2 linked regions of the Homo sapiens genome follow. The protein of the gene in region 2 interacts with the protein of the main gene of each other region in a pairwise test. Each region holds a gene or a part of one and is shown on either strand. Other genes may lie near its edges.

The links. Proteins that work in one complex are often made in the same cells at the same time.
Region 1: the proteins of MITF (region 2) and HK3 interact in a two-hybrid assay, tested with the Homo sapiens proteins (one large-scale study listed by BioGRID and IntAct).

Annotation. Positions count from the first base shown.
Region 1 is NC_000005.10:176,885,847-176,889,494, forward strand, and holds part of HK3 (hexokinase-3), read right to left. Parts: coding exon 3,535-3,648; intron 3,019-3,534; coding exon 2,863-3,018; intron 2,720-2,862; coding exon 2,486-2,719; intron 1,901-2,485; coding exon 1,605-1,900; intron 1,492-1,604; coding exon 1,355-1,491; intron 1,276-1,354; coding exon 1,156-1,275; intron 52-1,155; coding exon of another isoform or gene 1-51. UniProt on the Homo sapiens protein: Catalyzes the phosphorylation of hexose, such as D-glucose and D-fructose, to hexose 6-phosphate (D-glucose 6-phosphate and D-fructose 6-phosphate, respectively).
Region 2 is NC_000003.12:69,959,426-69,963,073, forward strand, and holds part of MITF (microphthalmia-associated transcription factor), read left to right. Parts: intron 1-3,648. UniProt on the Homo sapiens protein: Transcription factor that acts as a master regulator of melanocyte survival and differentiation as well as melanosome biogenesis.

The DNA of each region.
Region 1 (3,648 bases), on a different chromosome or scaffold from region 2:
ACTGAGCAGGCTTAGCCTGGAGCAGAGCAGCCAAGCAGCAAGACTGGCCCACTGCACCATCCAAAGGACCACCGTGTAAAAGAAAGCAGAGTACAGAGTTGCATATCAGGTGGAGTGCGGTGGCTCACGCCTGTAATCCCAGAACTTTGAGAGGCTGAGGTGAGCGGATCACCTGAGATCAGGATTTCTAGATCAGCCTGGCCAACATGGTGAAACCCCATCTCTACTAAAAATGAGCTGGGCGTGTTGGCATGTGCCTGTAGTCCCAGCTACTTGGGAGGCTGAGGCAGGAGGATTGCTTGAACACAGGAGGTGGAGGCTGCAGTGAGTGAGCCAAGATCATGCCATTGCACTCCAACCTGGGCGACAGAGTGAGACTTCATCTCAAAAAAAAAAATGAGTTGCATATCAGAGAGAGGTCAGAGCAGGAGCAGGGGGTGAAAATCACATGGAGGCTGGTTGGAGTAGGTGAGATGAAGCTTTTCATTGATCACAGGTGTCTAAGAATGCAACTGTTGCCTTCAGGGGCAGTGAGCTCCTTGGCAAGAGGCTTTCAAGCAGAAGTTGGGTATGTTGAAAGGGAGATTCCTGGGAGTTTGGACCAGAGGCCCGGGAGGTATTGTTTCCGTGACAGGCTTCCGGTGTGCACATTGAGAAGTCCCTCATCCTTGTGTAAGAACAAGCTAAAGTGTGTGCTGAGTAGGGATGTGTGTCTTAGCCTGTGCCTGGCACTCTGCCACCCTAGTCATGCACCCAACACTGAGCCAGGCACTGAGAAGGAAACAAAGAAAGGAGGAGGAGAGAGGCCAAAAAAACCCCAAGCGACCTCAAGCCCCTGCTAGAGACAGGAACAAATGCTGGTTCCTGCAGGACCCTGAGGCCCACACACCAGTGCTATAGCTAAAATGGACGATCTGTCCTCTGATCAGCCCCAGTCTAGGCCTGACCTGCTCCCAAATGGTTCAGACCCTAACCCTGGGCCTACCCTGTCTGGGGAAACTGAGGCTGTGTGCAAGCCCAGCCCAGCAGTGCTGCCACCACCACCAACCCCAGACCCGCCACCGCCCAGCCTTTTCCCCTGCCTCCTGCCCACTCCATGAAGGGTATGTGGGGGCAGGAGGCCCTTGGGAATCACTTCTCTTGGCCCTCCCTCACCTGGTCTAGGCCAAGCTGCCTACATGGGAAGGAGAAGGTAAAACCCAGTGGGAGGCTCTGCCCGCTCAGGCCCTGCTTCTGCTGGAAGTCCACGATGCAGTCCACGATGTGGTCAAAGAGCTGTGGGGCAGGACAGGTCAGGCGTAGGCACTGCTCAGCCCTTCCCCACCTCTGACATCAAGGTTCAGGCTGTGGGTACCTGCTGCCCAGAACCCTGGGCCACAGTCTCGGGAATGGAGTAGATCTCGCTGGTGATCTGCACGCCTGTGGTCACACGTACCAGGAGGACACGGAAGTTCGTGCCCCCGAGGTCCAGGGCCAGGAAATCCCCTCGCTCTGTGGGGGCAGAGACCCTCAGTGCCGGGATAGGGCTTGTGGCTCCAGCCCCAGCACACACTGGGACCCCCAGGAGCCCATGTTTCGGTCCCACACTCAGGCCAGGTCCTTACCGCTGCCGTCAGGGGTGGCCCGGACGAAAGTGGGCAGCATGCGAAGGGAGGAGGCCTCCCCTCGGAGCCCCTTGGCCATGGCCTTCCGCATCTGTGCCTGAACCGCAGCCAGTTGATCATGGTTCAACCGGAATGGGGCCAGGGTCTCCTCCAGCAGGCGCCGGTGGGCAGCCAGACGGGCAGCCACGGCAGTCACCATCGCCACTCCCCGGCCACCACCATCCACAGAGGGGATTAAGGAGACATCGCATTCCGGGGCCAGGAGCATCACTGTCCCCTGCAGGACGCTGCAGAACCTACAGATACATACAGGTGCACCCGGCTTGGCCCTGGACCCCCAGACACACACAGGTGTGCACGGCTTGGCCCTGGACCCCCAGATACATACAGGTGTGCCCAGCTTGGCCCCAGACCCCTAGGGCCTCCTGAAGCCCAAGGCCCCATCACTTTTTTTTTTTTATTTTTGTAGATATCGAGTCTTGCTCTCTCACCCAAGCTAGAGTGCCACGGAGTGATCATGGCTTACTGTAACCTCAAACTCCCAGGCTCCAATGATCCTCCCACCTCAGCCTCCCAGTGTTGAGATTACAGGCGTGTACCACCATAGCCAGCCTCCCCTATCACTTCAATTTGAAATCTGTTCTGTGCACCAGCCATACGCCCCCGTGTCGCCATGGCCTCCACCCTTGCACACACAAAGGGAAGCATCGTTTCTCTCCTTGGATGTCTTCTGGCCTCCCATAGCTCAGTCTGGCCCTCCCTCTGCCTAAGTGCCCTTCGTGTCCACTGGCTTGCACATGTGATCCCAGAGGGCCCTCTGGGTGTGTATCACACACACGTGTTCATGCCAACTAATCATGCGGATCACGTTTCCACAATACCTGGGGTGCCGCTCACACACTCGGCCTCCGGTGGCCACAGCAACCTGGAGTGTTTGTTGCTCCCGGCTGTGCTGGAGGCAGGAGAGAACAGCGGCCAGGGCGGCAGCACAGAGCTGGGCAGCCCGCGTGCACACGGCCGCACAGACGTGCTGCACAAGCTCAACATCCGAAGCCCCAGGGCTCAGGCCCAAGTCCTGCAGGATAGCATGGACACGGGCTGCCCCAGTAGAGGGGCTGGAGGGGAAAGGGAAGTGGTTTGGGGCTCAGCCCAGAAGCTCCCCATCCCACTAAAGCCCCATGGCTACCTTGGGAACAGAGTATCATCCCCTTCCTCCAAGCCAAGAATCCCCCACTAAACCACCATCTCCCCGACTCACTCCTCCATCTCAGCCACGTGTTCCAGGAGGATGCTGCCTTGGCTCAGCAGGGCAGGGGAGGTGCAGCCACCAAAGAGGACCCCACACCGGGCCAAGTGAGCCAGCACCAGCCGCACCAGCTCACCCAGGTACAGGCCTCCGATCATCTTCTCAAACCTGCAGGGGGGAAGGGTGGCTGGAGGAAGCCTTTTCTAAGCCCTCAGTCCACCTGGCCCTACCTCCAAGAGTTCCCAAAGAAGGATTCTTTTCTTTGGGGCTCCCAAACTGGAGACTCCAGAAGCAACGAATAGCCTCCCAGAGGACAGGTGGGTGTATGCCCAGACCCCACTGCCCCCTCTGACATAGGTTACATTCAGAAGCCTCCTGGAGAACAAGAAGGACCCAAAGGAAGGCAGAGAGCAGTTTGCTCAACCACTTCCAGCCCTCAACCCCCAAACTGTCAGGGCAGGCCAGAGTCAGGAACAGGGAAGATCAAGGGTTGACAATTCTGGATTCTAGAACTTTGGGCCCTTCCTTCTTTGAACCTGGCCAGGGCCCCCAGGTTGCTCCCTGGAGACCCTCAGAGTGACAGGGAGGGGCCTAAGGGCCTGAGAACAGGGACAGAAGGGGTTGGGAGCAGAGCAGTCATAGACAGGGCCTGGAACCAAAGGTCAGGGCCCCCTGCCAGGTCACCTCTGAGCACCAGGATTCAGGGACTCATGGTCCAGGGTATGGTCGAAGGTGGTCAGCACTGGTCCCAGCGCCCCATCATCGCTGAAGGAGCCCCACTCGACGCTGACGCAGACG
Region 2 (3,648 bases):
CAGCCTGAGTTGTGTAAAGTTTACTGCTTTTTACCGACTTCAAGACAGTAGAAACAGGGATATAATGAGCCATAGGGGAGTTGACTTACGTGATCCTAACACAGTCAATCCTTATTATTTGTGGATTCTGTGTGTGTGAATTTGCCTACTTGTAACCCCAAAGTCAGTATCTGTGGCACTTCCACAGTCATTCTTGGACATGTGCAGAGTGGCACGTTTGAGCTGCCCATGGCACGCATTTCCAGGTGAGGTCGAATGACCCTGCCTGAGGTTGACTGTCTGCTGTCTTGTTTCAGCTCTCATCCTCTAAACAAGTGCTCCTTTCGTGGTCTGTTGAGTACTTTCTACATTTTTGTGGTTTCTGTTGGTGATTTCGCTGTTTAAAATGACCCCCAAGCATAATGCTAAAGCACTGTCTAGAGTTCCTGAGGGCAAGAAGGCCGTGATGTGCTTACAGAGAAAATACATGTGTTGGATAAGCTTCGTTCAGGCATGAGCTACAGTGCTATTGGCTGTGAGTTTAATATTCATGAGTCAACAACATATATTACATAAGGTGACCTTCAACAGAAACATACATAAAACAAGATTAAGTGTTGTGACTAGGGTCTCACAGGAACCTAACTTGTAATTCCCCTGGGAACAGTGCTTCAGTGTTCACCAATTCAGTGTTCACAGTGACTTTGTAGAACATAAAAAAAATAAGTACTGACTATACCACGTTAAACAAGAAGATGCCTTAGTATTTGTAGGGTCCGGGAAGCAGTTGATGGTCAAAATCTGTGTTTACAGGGAACTTGGGAACACCCAGAGGATCTTATATTAAGGACATAATTCCTGGAGATAGTTATAAATAGTGGAATTATAGCATATATATCTTTAACTTAAACTATACACCATTAGAAGAAGACATACTAATTTTATTAATATGTGCCATTTGTGCGTCATCCTACTCAGTGGGTATATGCACCAGTGTAAGCCGGAGATGGGGAATTCCTCTTTGGTATCAACTCCTGGAACTTCTCTCAGGGGCTTGGCGTCTCTTGTTGAGTGAAAGGGCACTACTTCCTCTGAAATGATCCTCAAAAACAGACTCCCTGTTATGGACCAAAGGGGGTTTGTGAGGGTAATTTTAATTTGCTGACTTTGAACACAACCTATCTGTAAGAGTCAGTGACACCATATCTTCTTCTTGAGTAGGCTGACCCACCTTTTACTAGATTTTGCCATAAAGCAAGGGTTGTCTTTCAACTTTTCCAGTGCAACTATTCATGGAGTTATTTTACGAAACAGCAATGAGAAGTATGACACCCTAGCGACCATTGTGTTTCACCTAGTGGTGCTCCTCCCGGACGTTGAACTTTTCAAACAGAGCAATTCACTTATAATAATGGTCTCCAGTCTTCTGAATGCTTATATTTTGAAATGCCACATCTCTCATTCACTGCAGTGATTCCTCAGCTGTGGGGTGGGGAGGTGGGAAGCCACTTCCCTGTTGGGGTGCATTTTAGATTCTGGGTAGTGAAGTAGAGGTAGTGTGTAATTTGAAAGCCCTCCTTTCCCCTCCCCTCCTCTACTTTGGCTTTTGTTGTTGGTTTTATGTTCTGTCTCTTCAATAAGTAGCTATAGGTATTTAATCTCTCGAACATAGTCTGCCTATTTATAAAAGCAGCTTGTGGGCCGGGCACGTGGCTCACGCCTGTAATCCCAGCACTTTGGGAGGCCAAGGCGGGTGGATCACAAGATCAGGAGTTCAAGACCAGCCTGGCCAAGATGTTGAAGCCCCATCTCTACTAAAAATAGAAAAATTAGCTGGGCATGGTGGCGGGCGCCTGTAATCCCAGCTACTCGTGAGGCTGAGGCAGAGAATCACTTGAACCCGGGAGGCAGAGGTTGCAGTGAGCCAAGATCGCGCCACTGCATTCCAGCCTAGGCGACAGAGTGAGACTCCATCTCAAAAAAAAACAAAAAAATAAAAATAAAAATAAAACCAGCTTGTGGCCGGGTGCGGTGGTTCACGCCTCTAATCCCAGCACTTTGAGAGGCCAAGGTGGGTGGATCACGAGTTCAGGAGTTCGAGACCAGTCTGGCCAACATGGTGAAACCCTGTCTTTACCAAAAATACAAAAAAAAAAAAAGAAAAGAAAAGAAAAGAAAAATTAGCTGGGCATGGTGGTGGATGCCTATAATCCCAGCTACTCATGAGGCTGAGGCAGGAGAACCCGGGAGGCAGAGGTTGCGGTGAGCTGAGATTGTGCCATTGCACTCCAGCCTAGGCTATAGAGCAAGACTCCGTCTCAAAAAACAAACAAAAAAAAGCAGCTTGTACTAATGTGTTGTTTCCTTCTACAAGTATTAAAATGTAATAACTATTTTGAAAGAGAAGCTAGGTTTTGTTTTATTTTAGGGTTCCAAACATGTATATTCATATGAAATACGAATATTGTGAAATATGTGCATTGGAAATTCCATGGTGACGATATCTTGGTTTTCTTCCAGTGACGGTGTGAGGCAGCCTTTAGAACTTTTGCATATCACAGAAAACATTATTAATTAGGAAAGCTCTGTGATGCAATTAAGCCAGAGTTCTCTAGATGAGATTTATCACCTTATTTAGAAATCTGAGTAATGCTTTAATCGCTGATAAATATTTTTAATTAGACAACAAAGGATTAGAGTGAGATGTTTGCCTCTCTTAATCCAACTTTATTATTCTTTTTCTGAAAAGACAATCTGCCTGTGTGGAGGTACTGTTCTTATTAGCATGTTGGTGTAGATTTACAAGAGTCCATGTTTTCAGTATGGGCCTAAGGGCTTTCTTTCATTTTCACTCTAAGTGATGCATGCAAAAGTTTTCACAGAAGAAAGAGCATGAATCCTTTATGTCAGTGGAACTGCCATTTTATTAAATAGCCCAGGGCTTTCAAATGGTGCCTGAAGAAACTTGTGTTTCTGGAGATTATGTAAAGGAACTTGAAGGTACTTGTGTGACATGTCAAGCTCCTGGCTTTTACTCATATTGTATCCAAAGAAGGATTTTGCAGACCCAAAAACCTTGAATTTAGACTGAAACGTGGCTTTGCAGGCACATATGTTTCTCAGCTTGTGGGCAGAGGTTGAGAGGCCATGTCATATGGAGAGTCCTTCCCCTCTCTGATAAGGAAAGGTGACTTGCTTCAAATTTATATTCTCTTGCTATATATTATTGTTTCACAACCGTGGAAGGGATAGCATTGGAATGGAGAAGCAGAATGCTTATCAGGAATCAATTAAAGTCTGTGTGGTTCATTTTAGGAGTGCCCAGGGATACACTCAGAAAGGAAAAAGGGAAAGAGCTTGCTTGGAAGGCATTTTGCAATGAGTTACAGGGGGAATCAAGGGTATTTAGGAAGTGTATTACCCAGCTAGTGCTGCTGTAGTGAAATGCCACTGACTGGGTGGTAAACAAGAGTTATTTTCTCATAATTCTGGAGGCTAGTTGTTGTCCAAGATCAAGTTGTCAGCAGGGTTGGTCCCTTCTGAGGCCTCTCTCCTTGGCTTGTAGATGCCTGTCTTCTCCCTGTGTGTTCACATGGTCTTTTTTCCTGTGTGTGTCTGTCCCAATCTCCTCTTCTTACAAGGACACCAGTCCTATTGGGTTTAGGCCCA